Homo sapiens: one gene and its partners. The protein of the gene in region 6 purifies or fractionates together with the protein of the main gene of each other region. This does not show direct contact. Each region holds a gene or a part of one and is shown on either strand. Other genes may lie near its edges.

Region 1 (3,500 bases), on a different chromosome or scaffold from region 6:
GATCAAACAGGTTTCTTTGTCCAAACCTCAAAGAAGTTAAAAAAAAAAAAGAGGGTAAATGTCTTGGTCTCCAGTCTCCTCTTACACTCATTCAATTTCCATACTGTTAGCAGTGATATCTTCTTAAAAACATATCTTGTCATATTAGTTCTTTGTCTGAATATATCTTTTGGTTTCTCACCGTCTACAGAAATACAGTTAAATCTTTTTCATGAAATCACCAAAAATTAAAAGGAATACTACTATAGATTGTTTCAAGTGATAGGCAATAGATCATTTGTATTTATTTTGTGCTTTTCTGAATTTGATTATTTGCTTTTGAGCAGTTATCATGTTTACAATTAGAATTATAAAACTGGAATGAAATATACCAAAATTAAGAGTGATTTCACTTTGAATGGTAGGACTGTGAGTCATTTATTTTCTCTTCATTTCTCTGTACTGTTTTCTCCAATCCAGCCCCACCTATCTTCCTCCCTTGATCCATTTCCTCCCCAACTCAACCCCATCTACCCCTTGCCCTAGCCACATTGAGCCTCTCACCATTCCTTAGTCAAGATTTTCCATAGCTTTGTACCTTTACACTTGCTTTTCTCTCTGTATAAAGGGACCCTCTTGCTTCTTTGCCTGGTAAAACCTAACTTGTCTCTCAAGACTCAGCTATGAAGACCTCCAACTTCTGCAGAATTGATTATTTACTCCCTCCTCTGTGCTCCCATAGCTTAGCCCTATACCATATTATAATTATCAGTTAATATATCTGCCTTCTGGAGCCTGAGTTCAAAAAGGATGAGGACTCTGCTTTATTCATTTTTATAAACTATGAATGAATGAATATGCAAGGCTGCCAAATCCAGAGAGAAGGTCTCACTAAAGTACAACATTTAAAAGCTACCAGGTGTTTTTTTTTTTCTCTCAAACATCTGTCTTTTAAAAATTCTGGCTGGGCGTGGTGGCTCACGCCTGTAATCCCAGCACTTTGAGAGGCTGAGGCGGATGGATCATGAGGTCAAGAGATCGAGACTATCCTGGCCAACATGGTGAAACTCCGTCTCTATTAAAAATACACAAAATTAGCTGGGCGTGGTGGCGCGTGCCTGTAGTCCCAGCTACTCGGGAGGCTGAGGCAGGAGAATCGCTGGAACACGGGAGGCAGAGATTGCGGTGAGCCAAGATAGCGTCACTGCACTACAGCCTGAGTGACAGAGTAAGACTCCATCTCAAAAAAAAAGAAAAAAAAATCGAAATAGCTCGTTTCTGCCTCATCTTTTTTTGAGAAAGGAACTCTGTGAAAAAGGATAAGGGAGTGAATGCTTTACACGTTACACACACACACACACACAGTTTTGAGAAGCCTGGTTCTCTCCTACCTCTCATGTGTACATTTTTAATTTTTCGTTCTTCATCATTCAACTCCTTGAGGGCACAGTATGTGGGATTAAAGGTGAGGAGCCGAGAGGATCTGGGTTTGCAAAATGGCTGGCATAGCTTCAGGAGAGCAGCACCCAGATTCAGAAAGAAAGCATCTGAGGCATACATTTGGAAAAAGATTTCTGGCATCTGATTGGCCCAAATCTTGGTGCGGCCTGCATTTGCATGCAAACAGTTTCCAAGCCAGGACAAGATACAGTGTTTGGTTTCTGGAGAGAGCTGGAGTAAGTTCTTCAGCATCTGGTAGATCTTTTCGTGGAACTGAGCCATGAACTGTTCAACCAGAAAACACAACCACAGAACGTTTCACAATCCTAATAGTTTTTATTCCCAAACCTTAGCAACTGGCAGTTTCCAAAAATATGCTAATCCTAATCTTTCCCCTCACTCTCTGTGCCTCATCCCCTAATTTGATTTTAAAATATATTTCTGGGCACTTATAAGAGATTTTCTGATCAGCTGCCCAACTGCAGATGGCATTACACGGTATTAGAGCACAGGTCTGTAAATTTTTTCTGCAAAGGGCTAGACAATAAGGATTTCTGGCATTACTTGCCATACAGTGTCTGTAGCAATTATTCAACTCTATCACTGTAGTATGAATTCAAACCAGAAACAATACATATACTAATGCGCATGGCTATGTTCAATAAACCTTTATTTACAAAAACAGGTGGCAGGCCAGATTTGGCCACTGCTAGTTTGCCATGCCTTGCCTTAGAGAGTTGTAATGATTAATGATTAGGGGACTTAAACTATCCCCAATTCAATCATTCAATGCCTCATGTTGGCCAGACCTCTACTATAATTTATGTGAAGAAGCCCAAAGAGAGGGCATAGGTGGAGACACGAAAAGGAAGAAAAACTGGGTTTATAAGCTAGAGTTCAGTCAAAAGATTTTCAGAGCTAAAGTTATAGCTCAGTGAGAAAAATGAGGGTTGGGGAGAAGTAGCTGTAGCAGTGCTACAGCAAAGGGTAATGAGTAGCAGCAGCTCATTCTTACCCCACACGTGCTGTTCTTAGCATATGCTACAAAGAGGGGATTTTTTTTTTTTGAGACAGAGTCTTCTTCTGTCATCCAGGCCGGAGCGTGATGATGCAATCATGGCTTACTGAAGTCTTGACCTCCCAGGCTCAAGTGATCCTCCCACCTCAGCCTCCCGAGTAGGTGGGACTACAGATGCTTGCCACCATGCCCACCTAAGTTTTGTATTTTTTTGTAGACATGGGGGTCTCACTGTGTTGCCTAGGCTGGTTTCAAATTGAACTCCTGGGCTCAAGCGATCCTCCCACCTTGGCCTCCCAAAGTGCCGGGATTACAGGCTTGAGCTACCATGCCCAGTTTTAATTTATTTATGTGATGTAAAAGCCAACTAGATCAATTTGCTTTCCCAGAGAGGCTTGAGCAGCCTTATCTGTATCTGCTTTCTGAGAAAACTCTTTTAAGATCAGGGGGCTGGGATACCCTGGTAAACAGTTCCACCTGATGGATGTTGGCCTCCTGTACTTTGATCTCCTGGGGGCTGGAACGAGATGGATTCAAAAAGTAGCCATGATTTTCTACAACACCCGGAGTCTTTAATAAGCAGGAGATACTCAGAATTACTCCCAGCAAGGTCTTCTGGTACATTTGCCCATTGGTAGGGTCCTTGGGCTGAATGTATTCTACAAAAACCTGTAAGAGAAGACAAGTTCTGCTTATTCATCTTCATGGTGAGATAAGGTGATGGGGTGGGAGGGCCTCAAAACAGTTAAGTTGATACAACAACCAAGCTATCTTTTTCTTATTTTATAGGTAGTATTATAGTGTCTTCAGGATAGGGAAGCATCATGTATTACACATCTAGCTCAACTGAATACATATCATCTTTCAGACCTACCTTTGCCATATCTTTTTGCCTAGTGAAATAGAGAAGAATATCCAGATATGCATACAAAAGGATCTGACAGAGCTCTAGATCTTTTATTCGGCCCAATAAAATATCAAACACTGGAATCATGACTTCTGGAAATGTTCTAACTTCCTCATCCAATATCAAGGCTTCAATGACCTCTTCCAGAAACTCAGT
Region 2 (3,500 bases), on a different chromosome or scaffold from region 6:
CCGTCTCCACCAAAAAAATACGAAAACCAGTCAGGCGTGGCGGCGCGCGCCTGCAATCGCAGGCACTCGGCAGGCTGAGGCAGGAGAATCAGGCAGGGAGGTTGCAGTGAGCCGAGATGGCAGCAGTACAGTCCAGCTTCGGCTCGGCATCAGAGGGAGACCGTGACCATGGAAAGAGAGGCAGAGGGAGACCGTGGGGAGAGGGAGAGGGAGAGGGACCTTGGTTTTCTTTCTTTTCTTTTTCTTTTTTTTTGAGATGGAGTTTCATTCTTGTTACCCAGGCTGGAGTGCAATGGTGCGATCTGAGCTCACTGCAACTTCCACCTCCTGGGTTCAAATGATTCTCCTGCCTCAGCCTCCCAAGTAGCTGGGATTACAGACGCCCGCTCCCACGCCTAGCTAATTTTTGTATTTTTAGTAGAGATGGGGTTTCTCCATGTTGGCCAGGCTGGTCTCGAACTCCTGACCTTGAGTGATCCACCCACCCCAGCCTCCCAGAGTGCTGGGATTACAGGCTTGAGTCACCGTGCCTGGCGCTTGGTTTTCTTATAATCTTCATTATTCTTTGCTGTGCCTACCTTTGTAATTTGTAGATAATGGAATGTGTCCACCCGGACTTTGATGATGTCCTGCATTGTTTCAATAAACAAGAAATGGTTTTCCCAGAAAGGGATTTTCTTTTCCCTCTACCTATGCCCTGCACATTCCATCTGGACTTGTCCAAAATCCCTCTGGTTCCCACGAATGCCCCACTGTCCACAGTCCCCACATTAAGACCCCCTTCTGCCATCTCTCAACAGCCCCTGGCTAAAAACATTCTCCAAGCCTACTTGCCCCCTCAATTCTACCACTGCCACCACTTATGAAAAGGTCCGGTGGTCACAGCCCACCTCCGACGGGTTCCTCCCTTCTGGTTTGACACCTCTATCCGTCGCAGCCCCATTGCACCTTCTAGGTTTTCTTGGCACCTCCAAGTTCCACTTGGCCTGCAGGGTTTAGCTGTTTCCCCAGCAATAGTGGCCCACAGAGGACAACCTTCCTTCACCCCCTAGTTCAGCCGAGTGAAGGCCAACATATCTCAAAAGGAATTTTGCTGGAAAATGAAGAGAAGGCAACACATAGACCCTGGGAAATGGAAAGACACCGAAGCAGAAGCGTTGGAGCCTAGAGATTTTTCTATCCTATGTACCTCTTCCCTCAGACTGGCTCCGTGGCTGCGTGGAGGGCTCCCCTGCTCTGACACTCATAACTTGGTATTTATTTATTTATTTATTTATTTATTTATTTATTTATTTTAACACTTGATCTTAGCTGAGAAGTGATGGATAACCTGCTTTTTCTGTTGTTTCTGTTTTTTTTTTTTTTTTTTTTTTTCGAGATGGGGTCTGGAATGCAGTGGTGCGATCATAGCTCACTGCAGACTCAAACTCCTCGGCTCAAGGGATCCTCCCACCTCAGCCTCCTGAGTAGCTACGTTGAAAGGCATATGCTACTACACGCAGCTAATTTTTAATCTTTTGTAGAGATGGGGTCTCGCTATGTTGCCCAGGCTGGTCTCAAACTCCTGGCCTCAAGCAATCCTCCTGCCACAGACTCCCAAAGTGCCGGGATTATAGGCATGAGCCACTGCGCCTGGCAGAGCCTGGTTTTTTTTTAATACTTAATCTTAGCCAAAAGGCTGAGAAGCGATGGAGAATGTGGATTTTTGGACGTGAATTCTGTTGGGTTTGGTTTTCCAGTAGCCTATTCTCTTCGCAGCCTTTGAACCTAACACCTCTTTGGCCCCAGCTGCTGTCTGCACTTGCAGACCCTCCTGCAAGCTCACCCTGTACTACCGCCGGGGGATGCCGTGATCAAGGAGCATCCTGCCTGTGGCTGGCAGAAGAGGCCATTCACTGCCCATTCGAAATCTCAGGCCTCCTCTGACTCTGTAGGACCCTGTGCCAGTCCAAGGGGGGCCGGGGTCTCAGCTCTGTTCCACAGTGCACACGCCTGACCCACCCTGGGCCCTTCTTGGCCCCAAGACTCTCCCTCGGCTACTCTATCAGGAATGGTTTTGAAGAATGCAAAGCAGGACAGGCTCACAAACCTCAGAAACCTAAACTATATAGCAGCGGCGGTGGTGGCAGCAGCCACCCACAAAAAGCAAGAGGCAGGTGAACTCCCAGCATCCCCCTCCACCCACCTGCCTCCTCTGCTTCTGAGAGTTAAGGTCACGCCACCACCTTGGTCCCTATTCTCACACACTAGAAGACGGGTTAGCAGTTTGGCACTCCATGTTGAAAAGTTGCCAACCCCTGCCCTTCAGGAAAATGTCCTCGGCCTCCACCTCCCACGGACAGCTCTGCCTCCTTCCTGCCCTCTCCCTCCCCACTCCCTCTCACCCTAGTCCTAGCCCCTTTAACTGTCCGGAGAACGGACCCGAAAGATGTGGATGGTCCCGTTACTGAGGGACACGACCAGGTACCTGCCATCCACCATGGTGGTAACCCGGGGCTTTTCCAGGCCGTGGTAGGCTGTCAGGAAGTCTCCAAGGAGGGACCCCTTCGGGTCCAGGATCACCACCTTGTTGACTTCTCGAAGGGTCAGAAAGATGTAGCCCTTCTTATCCACAGACACGGAGCCCGGCTGGCAGCCATGCAGGCCTGGCCCCTTGTACTCCCCAACCACCTGGCCCAGCCCATCACAGATTACCACACTATTCTGCTGCCAGTCCGACCCCACGAAATGCCCCTGGGGGCTGGTGGTCAGAAACACCAGCGCCCGCAGGCCCCGGCTGGCCTTGCCTCCAGGAATGAACCGGGTGGCCAGGCTGCCTTCCATATTGTACACCTCCACGTGGCCCGCCACGCTGACAGCCACGCGGTCCCCGCTAGGCAGTGCCGCCACCGCGTGGCTGGCCTGGGAGAGGCTCAGGGCCCTGCGCCACTGCACTTCGCCGTTGGGGTTGATGAGATAGAGCCGTGCGCTAGCGGAGAAGGCCACCGCGCTCTGCAGGGCGGCCACGCTGCAAGGGGAGCAGCCCTCAGGGACCGGCACGGTGCCCTTGTAGTCGCCGTTGAGGGAGAAGCGTTTCAGTGCCCGGTTCTGCTCATCCGCCACCAGGATCTCCCGGGGACCGAAGGGACAGAGCCCGGTGATCCGGGGGGACCGCTTGTCTCCAGGCATCCGCGTGGGGAAACTGCAGTAAAAGATGGGTCTGGGGAGGAGGCCAGAGCCGTCCAGATTCGGCCCCAGGGCTGGGCTGGGCTCCCGGGAAATTGACTTGAGCCTGCCTTTGAACTTTTTCTTCTTGTTGGGTCTGCCACCCCTGTGGGGCTGGGGTCCTCCATCCTCGTGGGGTGTCTGGGCCCTGTCCTCCTCCAAGGTCTGGGCTCCCTCTTCTCGGGTTGTCTGGGCTTTTTCCTCTTTTGGGGTCTGGGCTCCATCTCCAGCCTGGGGCTGGACTCCACCCTGTCTCTCAGTCTTCGGCTCATCCTCCCTCCGGCTCTGGCTCTCCT
Region 3 (3,500 bases), on a different chromosome or scaffold from region 6:
CGTTCCATGGCTGAACTAAACAGTGTAACAGTCTTTTCCTTTCTTATTTTTGTTTTCTCTTTTTTTAAAGGCTGTTGTGGCCAGGCACTGTGGTTCAGAGGCCAAGAAGGAAGGATCACGAGACCAGAAGTTCAAGACCAGCCTGGGCAACATAGCAATAGCCAGTCTCTTAAAAAGAAAAAAGGCAGCTGGGAGTGGTGGTGCAGGTCTGTAGTCCCAGCTACTCGGTAGGCTGATGTGGGAAGTTTGCTTGAGCCCAGGAGATGGAGGGTGCAGTGAACCATGATCACACCGCTACACTCCAGCCAGGGTAACAGAGCAAGACCCTCTCTTAAAACAAAGTATTCACCCTTACAACTTGTAGCACAGATACTTTAAAGTCTTGGTCCATGTCACCTTGAGGTTGGTGTCTGCTGTCTTTTCCTTTGAGATGTTAAGATTTTCCTGGTTTTGAGTATGTTGACTAATTTAGGATGGCATCCTGGATATTTTGACATGTTACATCATTCTAGGTCTTGATTTTTAAAAACTTTCAGCAGACAATCTGGTTTGGTTTAGGCTTCAAGTTTTTACTCAATGTTTCTAGGTTGTGTTATGGTTCCAGTGTCAGGTTTGTTATGAACTCCTTTGCTATGTTATTTGCATCTGCCCCACTTATTTGCCACCCAATGGCCAGGCTGGCCCTGGAGAGGCAGTCTATTGTGTATTCTAGTTTTCAAAGCCTCTGATGTGCTGTTTAGGGTCAGATCCATGCAAAATGGCTAAGGAGTGTTCATATAAAACTTTATAGGTTTACTTTCTTCAACCTTCCATAATCTCTCTGACAATGCCTGACTCACATAGGGGATAGGGGAAGGACTCTTCTTCATCCACTACCTATAAAAATAGGGCTTTGGCCGGGCGCAGTGGCTCACGCCTGTAATCCCAGCACTCTGGGAGGCAGGAGGATCACAAGGTCAGGAGATCAAGACCATCCTGGCTAACAAGGTGAAACCCCGTCTCTACTAAAAATAAAAAAAAAAAAAATTAGCTGGGCATGGTGGCGGGCACCTGTAGTCCCAGCTACTTGGGTGGCTGCGGCGGGAGAATGGCATGAACCCGGAAGGCGGAGCTTGCAGTGAGCCGAGATCGTGTCACTGCACTCCAGCCCTGGCTACAGAGCAAGACTCTGTCTCAAAAACAAACAACAAACAAAAAATGATTCCCTTCTCTCGTTGTTTTAGACATCTGCCTAACTGCCACAGCTGCTAAAGGCCTACAAGAGGATTGGGGCAGAATAGAACAAAACAAAAGCAAAAAAGAGATTTCTTCCACTCTGATTCAAAGGGGCCTCTCATTCTTTCTTTGCAGAGGAGAACTAGAGAGCCTTTCTTGGAACTATTTTTGCCTGCCCCTACTTTTCAGTTCTGGGTTTCTGGCAAGCCCAGGAGAAATCAGCGAGGAGATACCACAGGGGAAAAAAAACAGGAAATTCACTGCTGGTTCAGTGGAATTTAAAGTTCTGGCTTTCTTCTCCATTTCACCTGCTAAAATTTACTTCTCAGAGTCCTTGGATAGCTGCTCAACAATGCATTCTGTCCAGGGTTTATTAATTGCATTTTAATAAGAGAAGACAGTGTAGCATGCTTCTTCTGTAATGGCAGAGAAATAACCTTTTGTTTTCTGAGCCAGTCTCACTGTCACCCAGGCTGGAGAACAATGGCACAATCACAGCTCACTGCAGCCTTGGCCTCCCATGCTCAAAGAGATCCTCCCACCTCAGCCTCCCAAGTAGCTGGGACCACAGGGCATGTATCACTACACCTTACTAATATATTTTTAATTGTTTTGTAGAGATGAGGTCTCCCTATGTTGCCCAGGTTGGTCTCAAACTCCTGGGCTAATGAGATCCTCCCATCTCAGCTTCCCAAAGTGCTAGGATTATAGGCACGTGCCAACCCATTGGCTTCAAAATGCTCTTATACTCACTCATCATCAGTTAATAAAATTCTCCATTCAAACCTTTCCTCAACTAATAGTAATGCTCCGGTAATCAGAATTTTTCAATCATAGTATCAAAAGAAAGCAATTACTTTAAGCAACCTAGGACAAACAGTTAAACTGTCTATCAACCTAGTGATGATAAAGGCATTTACCAGAGCTACTAAGCTCAAGAAAAATAAATCAGAGGGCAAAATAGACGAAAGAAAAAAGTAGTCAATACAATGCTATACATGTACATAAAAGAGGTGAAAAACTCTGCAACAGCTGAAAATTTCAGCACAAATTATTTCTATCACATTTCTGTGGGAAAAAATGGCCTGCTTTTGTAAATAAAGCTCTACTGGAACCTAGCCACACCCATTCATTTATACATTGACTATGGTTATTTTCTCCCTATAAGGGCAGAGCTGAGTAATTGCAACAGACTGTCTGCCTTGCAAAATTTAAAATTTACTCCCTAGTCCTTTACAGAAAGTTTGCTGACTCTTGTTTTGGAGGAAAGGTTTTCAGTGGTCTGCTTTCTGATCAAATTAATGATGGAAAAGACAAAGTGCTTTATACAGTCGACAGAGCCATTTTTAAAATTAGGTTGCAGTGAGCCAAGATCGTGCCACTGCACACCAGCCTGGGCGACAGAGTGAGACTGTGTGTCAAAAATAGAAAAGATAGTATTAAGCTAGAATGTTTTATCAGGCTCAGTAGTGATAGTGGTCTTGTCTCTGCTTCACTCCCAAGTACACTACAAACTGAGACTTTGAAGCACTAGTCTATTATAAACTATTTATAAAACTGATCTATTTGGCAATCCTTGCTATTTAAAGAGTCAATAAATCAAATTGATGGATATAAAGCAGAATCAAGAGAAGCAAGATAGCAAGATGATTTTGGGATTTGTTCACATTACAGCTCACGTAATACTGATCTAGTCATTAGAAATTATTATAAAGCTATTCAAGCACACAATTTTTTTTTTTTTTGAGATGCAGTCTTGTTCTGTCACCTAGGCTGGAGTGCAGTGGTATGCTATCAGCTCACTGCAAACTCCGCCTCCCAGGTTCAAGCAAGTCTCCTGCCCCAGCCTCCCGAGTAGTTGGGACTGATTACAGGCATCTGCCACCATGTCAGGCTAATTTTTTTTTTGTATTTTTAGTAGAGAAGGTGTTTCACCATGCTGGCCAGGCTGGTCTCGAACTCCTGACCTCAAGCAATCCACCCGCCTCGGCCTCCCAAAGTGCTGGGATTTGGGATTACAGGCATGCACCACCATGCCTGGCCCGAAGCACACAATTCTTAGGTGGTTATAAAACACAAAGAAATATGTAGATTGAGTATTTCCTGATTTGAATTCCTTTTTCTCATCTTAAATGCCACCTCTCTGATCTAACTCAGTGGTTCTCAACTTGTAGTAATTTTGCCACCCAGAAGACATGTGGCAACATTTGGAGACATTTTTTATCACAACTGGGGTGGTGGTGGTGTTGCCAGCATGCAGTGGATAGAGGCCAGGGACACTGCTA
Region 4 (3,500 bases), on a different chromosome or scaffold from region 6:
GCCATACAGTAAGGCCAAGAGGAAATAGACTGCTTGGGTTTGAGCTTGTTTTGTCACTTGCTAGCCATGTGACTTATTATCAATGCCTGCCTCTCTAAAAAGATGAGAATAAGAGCACCTACTTCATAATGTGGTTGTGAGGATTAACATAAATTAAAACACAAAGCATTTTGAATAACGCCTGACAAAAAAAATTGCCTCAGTAAATATTAGCTATTTATCTGTATGTTGTCTCATATTTTTTATCATTATTTCCCTCTGCATTTTGGAAGATTTCCTTGCCATTATCTTCTGGTGCCTTCCTATTTTTCTCTACAGCAATCACATTTAAATTTCTAAGAATGCTTGCTTCTTTCTTGATCGTTCCTTTTTTCTCCACAGCACCATGTGCTGGTTTTATGAACGCAAAAACTTTCTGAAGTCTCCAAGATGACATTAACCAAAGTTTTAAAAGTTCTCGTCTGTTTCCTTGAGGATCCGCTGTTGTGTTTCTCTTGGTCTCTGTCATTCACGTTCTGCTTTTCCTTATATGTCAGATGATTAAACTCCGTCTCCAACTTCACTATTCTAAGCAGCTGGTCTGTTTTCAAGATAATACTATCTCCAAAACAGAAATGTTGGCTGGGAGCTCTGTGTATGTGGGAGGCTTGCTGACTGGCACCTGGCATTAGAGTGGGAAGCCAGCCCTAGGGCAGGGACCCCTCAAAGCCATTGGAAGAGAGCTTAACCCTGGGGTCCCAAAGCCATACCCAGCAGTCCCAGTTCTTCTCAGGCAGTTTGTTCAATTTATCTCAAAAAGCCTGTCCATTGTCATGGACAGCTGGCTAAGGGGATGGTCTATACACAGGCTTTAAATTAATTTCCATGTTTTAGCACTACCTTCTCATTTCCACCCTCCTTACTTCCAACTGCTAGCCAAGAACTTTGTTGGGGTTCTGCCAGGAAAGGCGCTCCAGCTCCGCTGCGGCTTTGAAAGCTCTGGATTCTGGGCTCCAGATTCATCTACTCTAGTTCATCCATCAATCAGCTTCCAACTTCTCTGTCCCTTTCTACTCTGTTGGCCCTTCCAACCTCTCTTTTTCTCTTCATTGTAATGGACTTACTATTTTTTAAAAATTTCTTAATAGTCATTTTAATTGAGAGAGAGAGAATGCTAACAGCATGCTCAATTCCCTTCTTAAACTAGAAAACTATGAAATTTTTGTTTTAGGCCAGGCACGGTGGCTCATGCCTGTCATCCCAGCTATCTGGGAGGTTGAGGCAGGAGACTCACTTGAATCTGGGAGGTGGAGGCTGCAGGGAGCGGAGATCGCAACACTGCACTCTAGCCCGGCCAACAAAGTGAGACTTAAAAAAATTTTTTTTTAATTAAAAAAAAAAAGAAATTTTTGTTTGAAGGACAAGGTAGCAGTCTAGAAGTCTTTACATGCCTGCCTTGATGTATTTTTGTCAGGTAAAAATTACTAGAGTTGTAAAACAGAGCAGCAATGTGAGGCCTTTATCACCATTTGCCCTTGATTAGATTCACACTTAACAGGACAAGTGCCGCAAACCTATACATGGTTCTATGAGAATCTATAAATGCGGGCTTTGACTTAGGAAGATGTGGAAAAGGTTTGTAGAGAAATTTCTGCTTGAGATTAGATCTAAAGATTAAAAGGACGGTGGGAAGTACACTCCAGGAACAAGAGAGAATCAAGTTTGTAGATTATTTTGTGTGAGATCTCCCATTCAAATTGCTTTTATCAAATTATACTTCAGTAATATACTTTTGCTTTCTATCAAGGAACATTTTTTAAAACAAGTATGTATCTGAAGACACAGACTGAAGACACTTCATTACAGCAATGTCTTCTGTATGAGGGGATCTCATCAGGATTTTTTTAAAAACTCATCTAATTATCAGATTTGTGCATCTCCTAAGCAGTTGCCTTGTTTTTAATCTATAAATAATTACGTCCACCCAGGTTTCTCTTTTTGCACTAGCTGCTCAGATAATTAAAACAAAGTTGGCCGGGCATGGTGGCTCACGCCTGTAATCCCAGCACTTTGGGAGGCAAAGGCAGGTGGATCACCTGAGGTCAGGAGTTCAAGATCAGCCTGCCCAACCTGGTGAAACCCCGACTCTACTAAAAACACAAAAATTAGCCGGCATGGTGGCGGGCGCCTGTAATCCCAGCTACTCAGGAGGCTGAGGCAGGAGAATCACTTGAACCCGGGCAGCAGGGGTTGCAGTTAGCTGAGATCACGCCATTGTACTCCAGCCTGGGCGACAGAGCAAGACTCCGTCTCAAAAACAACAACAACAACAACAACAAAAGTTTATAGCTTATACATTTTGTTTGTTTTTGAGACAGGGTCTCATTGTCACTCCGGGTGGAGAGTGGTGGCACGATCATAGCTCACTGTATCCTGAAATTCCTGGGCTCAGGTGAATCTCCTGCTTCAGCCTCCAGAGTAACTAACACTACAGGCACATGCCACTAGGCTCAGCTCATTTTTTTTTATGCTTTATGTTTTTGTAGAGACAGGTCTTGCTATATTTCCCAGGCTAGTTTCAAACTCCTGGCCTCAAGCAATCCTCCCGCCTCAGCCTCCCCAAGTGCTGGGATTATAGGCCTGAGCCACTGTACCCAGCTTGACAGCATACATTTTTCTATTAGCTTCACCCTTGACTCTAGTTTATTTCTTACCCTTGTGTTTCTTATAAGACATTTTAAGTTCTTTTGGGTGCACTGCAAATTAAAAATAAATACTGGACAATAAACAGTAAGAAAAGGATCTCTGTGTATCTTATATTTTTAATTTATTTCTTAAACAGTACCAGGCACATTATGGGCATGTGTTTAAGTCTCAATAAATACACGTTAATTGACTAGACAATTCAGCACAGGTTTCTATGTAACGTCAAAAGGGAAAATATTTTCATTTCTAATAAAAAAAGTTACTTAAAAATCCAAGAATCCTCTTGATTCATATGTATACATTTCCTTTACATTCTATTTAATTATTAGAGTTTTTATAATATTTAAAAAAAAACTAAGCCAAGGTTTTTAAAATGTAAAGATTAAACATGACATTACCACAATTCTTCGTATTTTAAAGTGATCATTTAAGCTCTCATATACAACCTCTAAGGACGAGAGCACAGAAAAATTATTACATGTCCTCAAATTAGTCCTATTTTCCCCCCAAATTAATAATTTTCAAAAAAAAAAAAAAACAACTTAGGTTATATTTAATCTAACTAAAAATTTAAAGCCGGGCACGGTAGCTCACACCTGTAATCCCAGCACTTTGGGAGGCCGAGGCAGGCGGATCACCTGGGGTCAGGAGTTTGAGACCAGCCTGGCCAATATGGTAAAACCCCATCTCTACTAAAAATACAAAAATTAGCCAGGCGTGGTGGCACACACCTGTAATCCCAGCTATTCGGGAGGCTAAGCCAGGAGAATTGCTTGAACCCAGCAAGCGGAGATTGGGTAAGCCAAGATCGCGCC
Region 5 (3,500 bases), on a different chromosome or scaffold from region 6:
CTGCCTCAGCCTCCTGAGTAGCTGCAATTACAGGCACCTGTCACCACGCCTGGCTAATTTTTGTATTTTTAGTAGAGATAGAGTATCACCATGTTGACCAGGCTGGTCTCGAACTCTTGACTCCAGGTGATACACCCTCCTTGGCCTTCCAAAGTGCCGGGCCTCCTCCTTTTTTCTTTTTTTTGGAGACAGAGTCATGCTCTGTCACCCAGGCTGGAATGCGCTGGCACAATCCAGGCTCACTGCAACCTCCACCTCCAGGGCTCAAGTAATTCTCCTGCCTCAGCCTCCCACGCCCAGCTAATTTTTTGTATTTTTAGTAGTGACGGGGTTTCACCACGTTGGCCAGGCTGGTCTCAAACTCCTGACTGCCTACCTCGGCCTCCTAAAGTGCTGGGATTACAGGCATTAGCCACCACACCTGGCCAGCAATGAGGATTTCTAGGGCAATGACACTCTTCTGTATAACGCTGTAAGGGTAGATACATGTCATCATATATTCGTCAAAACCTACACAATGCACAACACACAGTGTGAACCTGAATGTACACTATGGACTTCAATTAATAATAACACATCGACATTGGTTTATCAATTGTAACTGATGATCCACATTAATGCCAGATGCTAGTAATAGAGAAAAGTGAGGTGAGGGAGACTAGGCATATGGGAACCCTACCCTCTGCTTGATTGTAAACCTGAAACTGCTCTAAAAAATAAAGTCTATTTTTTTTTAAAAAAAGCACTGGACAAACATTAAAGTGATCTTAATTCTACTCCCACTATTGTCAGATCTACAAAAACTTAAAAAATTTCAGTTCCTCCGGTCTACAAACTTTTCTATATCCATATTCATCCCTAGCTTCTTTAAGTCTCAAAATATTTCCCATTGCCTGCTCCCACTCAGTTCTCCCCTCTCGGGTATTCTCGAAGACTCTGAAAGTTATGCCACTCCTGTCTTCCCCACATTTTTAACCCCCGTCCTTCCCAGTCTATAAACTTAAGTTTCCCCCGTCTCCCAAAACAGACAAAACTATTTCCGAGACACCGAATTTCCCTCTATCATCCAATCTTCCGGTGCTTTTCAAAAAAGGTCTACACTGTTGCCTTGCCCCTGCCTTATTTTTTAAGAGATGGGGTCATGCTGTGTCGCCTAGGCTGGAGTGCTATGGCATGATCACAGCTCACTGCAGCCTTGAACTCCCGGGATCCAGCGATCCTCCCGCCTCAGTCTTCGGTGTGGCAGATTGTAGGCGTGCGCCACAGCATCCGGCCTGTGTTCGGCCCTGTTTGTGACTTCCCATTCACTCTCCAATGTGCTATGCTCTTGACTTCCAACTCTGACTACCCTACAGAATATGCTCAAATCACCCAATTCTTCCCAGCTCCGCAGTCAGTGGACTCACTGTGTCTGTGCAGCACTTGGCATTGCCTGTCACTCCTCCCTCCCTGAGATTCACTCCCTGGACACCACTCTCCTCCACTCCCGGAGGTGTGACTCTTTTGTAAGTATCCCCAACTCCCACACATATTAAATGTTGCAGTACCTCACGAGTCCCACCCTGTCCCAAACTCCAAGTCCTCTTAAGGACCTGTGTTCGAAGCCACCATTCTGTTGATAACCCCCAAATCTGCATCTCTAGCCTAGACTCCTTCCTGTGCCTGTCCCACAGGAACTCAGGCATTCAGTCAACGACCACTCCCCGCTTCTTGAAGAATCTACCCCAGCCCTCAGGTGCACCTAGACTGTTCCATCTGAACCAAGCCTCCAAGCCCTCCTCAGACTGAGGTTATCAGGTGGAAACATGACCCAGGCCAATCAGACTTTCCTCTCCTGAAAACTGGTAATTATGATCAAACTTTCTTGACGCTTAAGCTAGGAAACCATGTGTGAGAAATGGAGAAAGCCAGTCTGCAGAGCCAGGAATGAAGGAGACAGGAAGAAGGGAGTGCACCCAGCTCCTGGAGAAAGACAAGCAACTCCTGTGGTGGTGATACCTGCTATCTGGGTGTTTCTGACCTTTCTATTCTGTCAGACACGCCTATCCTTTCATAAACTTGTTTTTGTTTCTTTTTGTTTTGCCTACTAAGCTAGTTTTAGTCCATTTCTGTACTTGAAATCAGATGACCCCGTGATATTCTTCTATACACTACCAAGAAAAACATACCCCCAATTAAACTGCATCATGCTATCAGTGTGTATCCCGATGTCAGAAATATTTAAAGATAGAAATCAGTGTGACTTAAAAAAAAATTTCAGGCTGAGCGCAGTGGCTCATACCTGTAATCCCAGCACTTTGGGAGGCTGAGGCAGGCGGATCACCTGAGGTCGGGAGTTCGAGACCCGCCCGACCGACATGGAGAAACCCCATCTCTACTAAAAATACAAAATTAGCCAGACGTGGTGGTGCAGGCCTGTAATCCCAGCTACCCGGGAAGCTGAGGCAGGAGAATCGCTTGAACCCGGGAGGTGGAGGTTTGTGGTGAGCTGAGATCGCACCATTGCACTCCAGCCTGGGCAACACTGCGCTCCAGCGTGAGCGAAACTCCATCTCAAAAAAAAAAAAAAAATTCAACTTTTATTTTAGAGTTAGGGGGTACCTATGCACGTTTGTTACAAGAATATACTGCAGGACGCGGAGGTTTGGGGTGTGAATGATCCCATTACCCGGGGAGTGAGCACAGTTACCAACAGGTAGCTTCCCAGCCCTTGTCCCCGTCCCTCTCTTTCCCCCTCTAGTAGTCCCTGGTGTCTATCATCCCATCTTTATGTCCATGTGTAATCAATGTTTAGCTCCCCAAAGTGACTTTGAATCAATGTAATCCAATCTACATGTACTCCACACACCCCGCTCCACGAACCTGGAATGCCTTCTCGTCTTCCACCCATCCTAATTACACCCATCCTTCAGGACTAAGCTCCAAACAATTCTACTTTTTCTGAATCAGGACCAAGGGAAATTTAGAATGTAGCAATTACTCTATTGTTATTTAATTTTTAATTGCTTAAGTCTTATCTGCCCAACAAGATTATCAACTTCTTCAAGTCAGACTTGTCGTACACAGATCTATACAAATAATAAATACTAAAAGTATTTAATTTGAAAAAAGAAAAAGCTTATTCAAAGGTGGTAACCACTCCATTTTCCACTAAGCTCCAGAAAGGGAAGATTTCAAATAATAATTTAAGACATGAGAAAAGGGTCACTATAACTTCATTTTTCCAACAAGGGAAGGGACTTATGCGGCAGTCAAAGAGAATTCAGGAAAACAAGCATATGTAGGTGCTCAACATAATTAGTTGTCAGGAAACAAAATTAAAACCACAAAGAAACTACATCCTCACTAAAATTAAAGGACTTGCAATATCAAGTGTTGGCAAGGATGTGGAAACCTGGATACCTTCAGATGCTGTGGGCGTGCGACACGGGGAAACTGTGGCAGCGGTGTGCACAACAGCTGAACATGCGTATCATCTAGGACCCAGCACAAGAGTATTA
Region 6 (3,500 bases):
ATCTCTACAAAAGTAAAAAACTAGCCAGACATAGTGGTGTGTTCCTATGGTCCTAGCTACTTGAGAGGCTCAGGTGGGACGATTGCTCCAACCCAGGAGGTCGAGGCTGCAGTGAGCTGTGATCACTCCACTGCACTCCAGCAGAGCAACAGAGCAAGACCCTATCTCTCAAAAAAAAAAAAAAAAAAAAAAAGAGGGGTGGGCAGGGATAAGGGTGTCTCCATGGGGGGTTGTTGTGGGAAGCAGTAAAGAGCCCCCATTGCATGCAATTAGCTTTTGTCATCATGACTGTTCCCAAAGGCAGCCATCCCTTCTCCCAGCATAGACAAGTGTCATGGGAGAGAGGAGGCTCCAAGATCGCATTGTGGACCCAGCTAAATCGATGGAAACGTAAAGAGAGCAGACCTTTCCCACAGGTGGTCTACAAGAGGGGCAGGACTGACCACCTCGTGGGGACACCCGCTCGGCTTCACTGAACGTGATATAACACCTACGGGGAATCAGGGAAAATGTGGGCAACCTGCTGAGCCCCCGCCCGCCGCAAACACTCAGCAAACGGAATCTGTTGCCATCGATTCCCAGCCACCACCCGTATGCTCCCTGTGAAGCCAGGCTCGGGATGAATTATGGGAAGAAATAACAGGGACAGAGATAAAAAAAAGCCACCAAGGCCCACCAGATGGCCTCAGGCCACAGGACAGGAAGCCAACGGGCATTTGGCCCCCAGATGCTGAGTAGGGGATACTGGCTGTGTCTCTGGCATTAACTGGATTGAACACAGTGGTTTGCCATCTCTGCCCAGCTGGGTGGCTTTTTCCAGAGGGATCCTTGCAGATCCATGAGAGGACCCCAAGCGGAACCAAAGGCATTAAGGGCCTGCCACTCCCTCTCAGGCAGCTTCAGTCTCGGTTCTGGAGTGAGGCCCAGAGAAAGGGACTGCGAGGAAAAATGCCAAGGCTCCTTGATGAGGGCTGCTCTCCTCTGACCTTCCAGGACATCCTGGAAGTTCCCAGCAGCCAAAAGGAATCCTCCTTGCCCTCTGAAAAGGCTACTCAGGAAGCTGACCTGGCACATCCTGAGAAGGCAGCTCAAAACCAGAACTCATGCCCTGGGGCTGAGGTGTAGTGGCAAGGGGTAGAAGCCAGGAGACGAGGAAACAGGCATGTAGCCTTCAGGAGCAGCAAGAAACTCCAGAGGCTTCTGGAAGCTTCCAGAAGCTTCCAGAAGCCTCTGGAGCCAGAGTCCAAAGGGATCTTCACCCTTAGCCAGTCCCTTTCCTGTGCCATTGAGACTGACAATTGTGGTCTGGACTACACTTTGGGCTCAGTCTCATGGGAAGAAGAACAGTCTTCTCTGAGACACCAAGCTGAAGGGAACATGGAATGTGTCACAGAAGGCCAATACATGGTGAAACCCCATCTCTACTAAAAATAAAAAAATCAGCCAGGCATGGTGGTACATACTTGTAATCCCAGCTACTTGGGAGGCTGAGGCAGGAGAATCACTTGAACTTGAGAGGTGGAGGTTGCAGTGAGCTGGGATCGTGCCACTGCACTCCAGCCTGGGCAACACAGTGAGACTCCATCTCAAAAAAAAAAAAAAAAGGAATCTCTTTCCTTCCTCTTGGGCATGTAAGACAGCTCATGGGTGAGAAATTAGAGAGATCTTAGCCACCTGTTCACACCCCAGCACACAGGGAATCACCTGGGAGCTTTTAAAGCACACCAATGACAGTTCAACCCCTACGGATCAGGAGTTTTAAAAGCCTCTGTGATTCTATTGCACAGCCAAGGCTGAAAACCAGCTCAGGACTCATCAATGGACCCATCTGAGCCCCAGGTGAGGGAATCAGCACTATGGGAATCACTGAGGCACGGCCATGGCTAAGATGGTGACTGCTGAAATCTAAGAGCCTGGGTTTGAGCCCCACCTCTGCCACTTTGTAGCTGTGTGCTTTTGGGCAAGTTACTTCCCACCTCTGAGCCAGGCTCCGCACCTGTAAAATGGGGATGATACATCTTCATAGGAACCTTTCCAAGGCATGAAACAAAGCTGAAGTGTCCAGCACAGTCATAAACAGTAAGCACCACGCAACAAGAAGCCTCAACCACAGGGTGGAGACATGCTCTGGAACGTGACCATGGCTCTCTGCCCAAACACGCTCATGGGGGCTAACGGCAGGGCAAAACCCGCCCAGAGTCTTGCTACCAAGTCATGAATCCGCACATCATAAGTTGCCACCACCCCAGCATCCCCAGGAGAGGACTGGGCAAGGAGCCCTTGGCCCACTGCCCGAGGGCCGCCCTGTGAGGGGGCTGCATCGTTCCTCCTACCACATCCAGCCCCACCTACCTTCTCAGGTTTATGGACCAAAATCATCACGGCGTCCCCAGGGAGCTTCTCAGAAAGGCAGAAACTCAGGGCCCCCATCCCAGGGCTAGTCGAGGGCAAGAGCCTCTGCCTGGGCTGAAGGGACCCAGGAAACTGAGCCCAGGCCTCCTCTGCCAATCCATCCTGTGTGGTGGGGACAGGCAGGGGGCAGCTCCCTCTTCCTCAGAGTGACTCAGGCTGCAGCTGATCCAAATCTTGGCCCTCGAGACCACGCTGAGGTCACCCTCCTGGCAGCCAAAATCACTGAGATGAACCCAGGGACATTTTCATCCAGCTGCCAACATCATCTCGACCTTGGTGGCGGCCGACTCCCTTGGAGCAGATTCTGCTGCCCTGGCTGGCCTTGGCCTCCCAGGGAGGTTCTCAGAGGCCAGCTCCCAAAGCAGAAGTGTGTCGCCTACATGTGGGGCAGCGCTGTGGAGTGGGGCAAGCCTGACACATGCTCAAGGAGAGACGGGGAAGACTGGGATGGAAGATGCCAGGTCCCAGCTCCACAGCAGAAACAGGGCAAACAGCACAACCCCTACCCCAAATATCCTCACCTTCACCTGGAACCAAAGTCTGCACCAATGGAGACAGGAGCAAGTCCAGCTCCTGGAAGCCAGGCCCCAGCTGGCCTGGCCTCAGGCCTGGGGTTCAGAAAATGAGGATAAGACTCCGATCCTTTCGCAGCCCCCTCTCACCCCAGCAAGGCCTCTGGAGCCAAGGCCACTGTCCCCAGACCTGCCTCTGAGCCCCCACTCGCTCCACAGCCCGCCAAGGGCGGCTCCAACATGTCTTTCCAGCTGTCTGGGGCCGCGCTTTAAGCAGAGCCGCAGGGCTATGGAAGGCCTCCAGCTCGGCTCATTATCGGAATTTAATCTGGATTCCGAGAGATCAAGAGGAGTCAGTGGAAAGTGACTCCCACAAGGGGAGAGACGCTGAGGCTGACCCAAAGCCGGCTAATCCTCGGCACCCCCGGGGCTTTCCTGGAGCTCAGGCACAGCTCGTCAGATGTCCCAGCCCTGCACAGCTGGGCAGCTGGCGGCACAGAGACAGAGGCAGCCACATGGCGGGGACAGCAGGGCAGGCTCTGGGCTCCCCCGGGCTGAGGTCTGCAGGAGGCCTTC
Region 7 (3,500 bases), on a different chromosome or scaffold from region 6:
TAACATCACAATTAAAAGAACTAGAGAAGCAAGAGCAAACACATTCAAAAGCTAGCAGAAGGCAAGAAATAACTGAGATCAGAGCAGAACTGAAGGAGATAGAGACACAAAAAACCCTTCAAAAAATCAATGAATCCAGGAGCTGGTTTTTTGAAAAGATCAACAAAATTGATAGACTGCTGGCAAGACTAATAAAGAAGACAAGAGAGAAGAATCAACTAGATGCAATAAAAAATGATAAAGGTGATATCACCACCGATCCCAAGAAATACAAATTACCATCAGAGAATACTATAAACACCTCTATGCAAATAAACTAGAAAATCTAGAAGAAATGGACAAATTACTGGACACATACACCCTCCAAAGATTAAACCAGGAAGATGTTGAATCCCTGAATAGACCAATAACAGGCTCTGAAATTGAGGCAATAATTAATAGCCTACCAACCAAAAAAAGTCCAGGACCAGACGGATTCACAGCCGAATTCTACCAGAGGTACAAGGAGGAGCTGGTACCATTCCTTCTGAAACTATTCCAATCAATAGCAAAAGAGGGAATCCTCCCTAACTCATTTTATGAGGCCAGCATCATCCTGATACCAAAGCCTGGCAGAAACACAACAAAAAAAGAATTTTAGACCAATATCCCTGATGAACATTGATGCAAAAATCCTCAATAAAATACTGGCAACCCGAATCCAGCAGCACATCAAAGAGCTTATCCACCATGATCAAGTAGGCTTAATCCCTGGGATGCAAGGCTGGTTCAACATATGCAAATCAATAAACGTAATCCAGCATATAAACAGAACCAAAGACAAAAACCACATGATTATCTCAATAGATGCAGAAAAGGCCTTTGGCAAAATTCAACAGCCCTTCATGCTAAAAACTCTCAATAAATTAGGTATTGATGGGATGTTTCTCAAAATAATAAGAGCTATTTATGACAAACCCACAGCCAATATCATACTGAATGGGCAAAAACTGGAAGCATTCCCTTTGAAAACTGGCACAAGACAGGGATGCCCTCTCTCATCACTCCTATTCAACATAGTGTTGGAAGTTCTGGCCAGGGCAATCAGGCAGGAGAAAGAAATTGTCCCTGTTTGCAGATGACATGATTGTGTATTTAGAAAACCCCATTGTCTCTGGCCAAAATCTCTTTAAGCTGATAAGCAACTTCAGCAAAGTCACAGGATACAAAATCAATGTGCAAAAATCACAAGCATTCTTATACACCAATAACAGACAGAGAGCCAAATTATGAGTGAACTCCCATTCACAATTGTTTCAAAGAGAATAAAATACCTAGGAATCCAACTTACAAGGGATGTGAAGGACCTCTTCAAGGAGAACTACAAACTCCTGCTCAATGAAATAAAAGAGGACACAAACAAATGGAAGAACATTCCATGCTCATGGATAGGAAGAATCAATATTGTGAAAATGGCCATACTGCCCAAGGTAATTTATAGATTCAATGTCATCCTCATCAAGCTACCAATGACTTTCTTCACAAAATTGGAAAAAACTACTTTAAAGTTCATATGGAACCAAAAAAGAGCCCGCATTGCCAAGACAATCCTAAGCCAAAAGAACAAAGCTGGAGACATCACACTACCTGACTTCAAACTATACTACAAGGCTACAGTAACCAAAACAGCATGGTACTGGTACCAAAACAGAGATATAGACCAATGGAACAGAACAGAGCCCTCAGAAATAATACCACACATCTACAACCATCTGATCTTTGACAAACCTGACAAAAACAAGAAATTCCCCATTTAATAAATGATGCTGGGAAAACTGGCAAGCCATATGTAGAAAGCTGAAACTCGATCCCTTCCTTACACCCCATACAAAAATTATTCAAGATGGATTGAAGACTTAAATCTTAGACCTAAAACCATAAAAACCCTAGAAGAAAACCTAGGCAATACCATTCAGGACATAGGCATGGGCAAGGACTTCATGTCTAACACACCAAAAGCAATGGGAACAAAAGCCAAAATTGACAAAAGGGATCTAATTAAACTAAAGATCTTCTGCACAGCAAAAGAAACTACCATCAGAGTGAACAGGCAACCTACAGAATGGGAGAAATTTTTTGCCATCTACTCATCTGACAAAGGGCTAATATCCAGAATCTACAATGAACTCAAACAAATTTACAAGAAAAAAACAAACAAGCCCATCAAAAAGTGGGCGAAGGATATGAACAGACACTTCTCAAAAGAAGACATTTATGCAGCCAAAGACACATGAAAAAATGTTCATCATCACTGGCCATCAGAGAAATGCAAATCAAAACCACAATGAGATACCATCTCACACCAGTTAGAATGGTGATCATTAAAAAGTCAAGAAACAACAGGTGCTGGATACAATGTGGAGAAATAGGAACACTTTTACACTGTTGGTGGGACTGTAAACTAGTTTAACCATTGTGGAAGACAGTGTGGTGATTCCTCAAGGAGCTAGAACTAGAAATACCATTTGACCCAGCCATCCCATTACTGGGTATATACCCAAAGGATTATAAATCATGCTGCTATAAAGACACAAGCACATGTATGTTCATTGCGGCACTATTCACAATAGCAAAGACTTGGAACCAACCCAAATGTCCATCAATGTTAGACTGGATTAAGAATATGTGGCACATATACACCATGGAATACTATGCAGCCATAAAAAAGGATGAGTTCATGTCCTTTGTAGGGACATGGGTGAAGCTGGAAACCATCATCCTCAGTAAAGTATCGCAAGGAGAAAAAGCAAACACCGCATGTTCTCACTCATAGGTGAGAAGTGAACAATGAGAACACTTGGACACAGGAAGGGGAACATCACACACCGGGGCCTGTTGTGGGGTAGGGGGAGTGGGGAGGGATAGCATTAGGAGATATACCTAATGTAAATGATGAGTTAATGGGTGCAGCACACCAACATGGCACATGTATACATATGTAACAAACCTGCACGTTGTGCTCATGTACCTTAGAACTTAAAGTAAAATTAAAACAAAACAAAAATCAAAATATGTCAGCAAAGAAAAAACAGTAACAAATAAAACAAATGTAGAAAAATGTGAGAAATATTAAATCTAAGTGGTGTGTGTATATATAATTTTCATAAGAAAAATAAAATGAAAACTCAACTGATAGTATAATCAGAATATTAGATAAAGCCAAAGGGAGATTTAGAGAATTAGAAGACATATCTGAAGACAGTATCCAAAGTATGAATAAAACTTAAAGAAAAAAGAAAACTCACCTTCCTTTGGGCTGACTGCTGCAGGGAGAACATTCCAATCAAGAGTCCAAGTAGGGCAAGGGTGGGGAGAAAACATCACTTCAATGCCCTTTTCCTAGAAAAGGAAATAGCCTCTTTCTAAATTAAGGAATTAATATAGTCTTATTATATTATTGAAGGCTAAAAAATTATATTTGTATATTGGTAAGGAGGAGGATAAATAGTAATAATCATCAG

The links.
Region 1: the proteins of BMP7 (region 6) and UBE4A purify together in Homo sapiens (affinity purification with western blotting; one study listed by BioGRID). This does not show direct contact.
Region 2: the proteins of BMP7 (region 6) and TRIM56 purify together in Homo sapiens (affinity purification with mass spectrometry, with the first as the bait; one large-scale study listed by BioGRID). This does not show direct contact.
Region 3: the proteins of BMP7 (region 6) and AMD1 purify together in Homo sapiens (affinity purification with mass spectrometry; 2 studies listed by BioGRID and IntAct, with this or other methods). This does not show direct contact.
Region 4: the proteins of BMP7 (region 6) and BTBD1 purify together in Homo sapiens (affinity purification with mass spectrometry; 2 studies listed by BioGRID and IntAct, with this or other methods). This does not show direct contact.
Region 5: the proteins of BMP7 (region 6) and UBE3C purify together in Homo sapiens (affinity purification with mass spectrometry, with the first as the bait; one large-scale study listed by BioGRID). This does not show direct contact.
Region 7: the proteins of BMP7 (region 6) and GSTCD purify together in Homo sapiens (affinity purification with mass spectrometry; 2 studies listed by BioGRID and IntAct, with this or other methods). This does not show direct contact.

Annotation. Positions count from the first base shown.
Region 1 is NC_000011.10:118,373,100-118,376,599, reverse strand, and holds part of UBE4A (ubiquitin conjugation factor E4 A), read right to left. Parts: coding exon 3,312-3,500; intron 3,107-3,311; coding exon 2,915-3,106; intron 1,705-2,914; coding exon 1,371-1,704; intron 27-1,370; coding exon 1-26.
Region 2 is NC_000007.14:101,088,481-101,091,980, reverse strand, and holds part of TRIM56 (E3 ubiquitin-protein ligase TRIM56), read right to left. Parts: coding exon 2,401-3,500; 3' UTR 1-2,400.
Region 3 is NC_000006.12:110,881,285-110,884,784, reverse strand, and holds part of AMD1 (S-adenosylmethionine decarboxylase proenzyme), read right to left. Parts: intron 1-3,500.
Region 4 is NC_000015.10:83,057,253-83,060,752, forward strand, and holds part of BTBD1 (BTB/POZ domain-containing protein 1), read right to left. Parts: intron 1-3,500.
Region 5 is NC_000007.14:157,141,926-157,145,425, reverse strand, and holds part of UBE3C (ubiquitin-protein ligase E3C), read right to left. Parts: intron 1-3,500. UniProt on the Homo sapiens protein: E3 ubiquitin-protein ligase that specifically catalyzes 'Lys-29'- and 'Lys-48'-linked polyubiquitin chains.
Region 6 is NC_000020.11:57,221,642-57,225,141, forward strand, and holds part of BMP7 (bone morphogenetic protein 7 preproprotein), read right to left. Parts: intron 1-3,500. UniProt on the Homo sapiens protein: Growth factor of the TGF-beta superfamily that plays important role in various biological processes, including embryogenesis, hematopoiesis, neurogenesis and skeletal morphogenesis.
Region 7 is NC_000004.12:105,729,284-105,732,783, reverse strand, and holds part of GSTCD (glutathione S-transferase C-terminal domain-containing protein), read right to left. Parts: intron 3,379-3,500; coding exon 3,285-3,378; intron 1-3,284.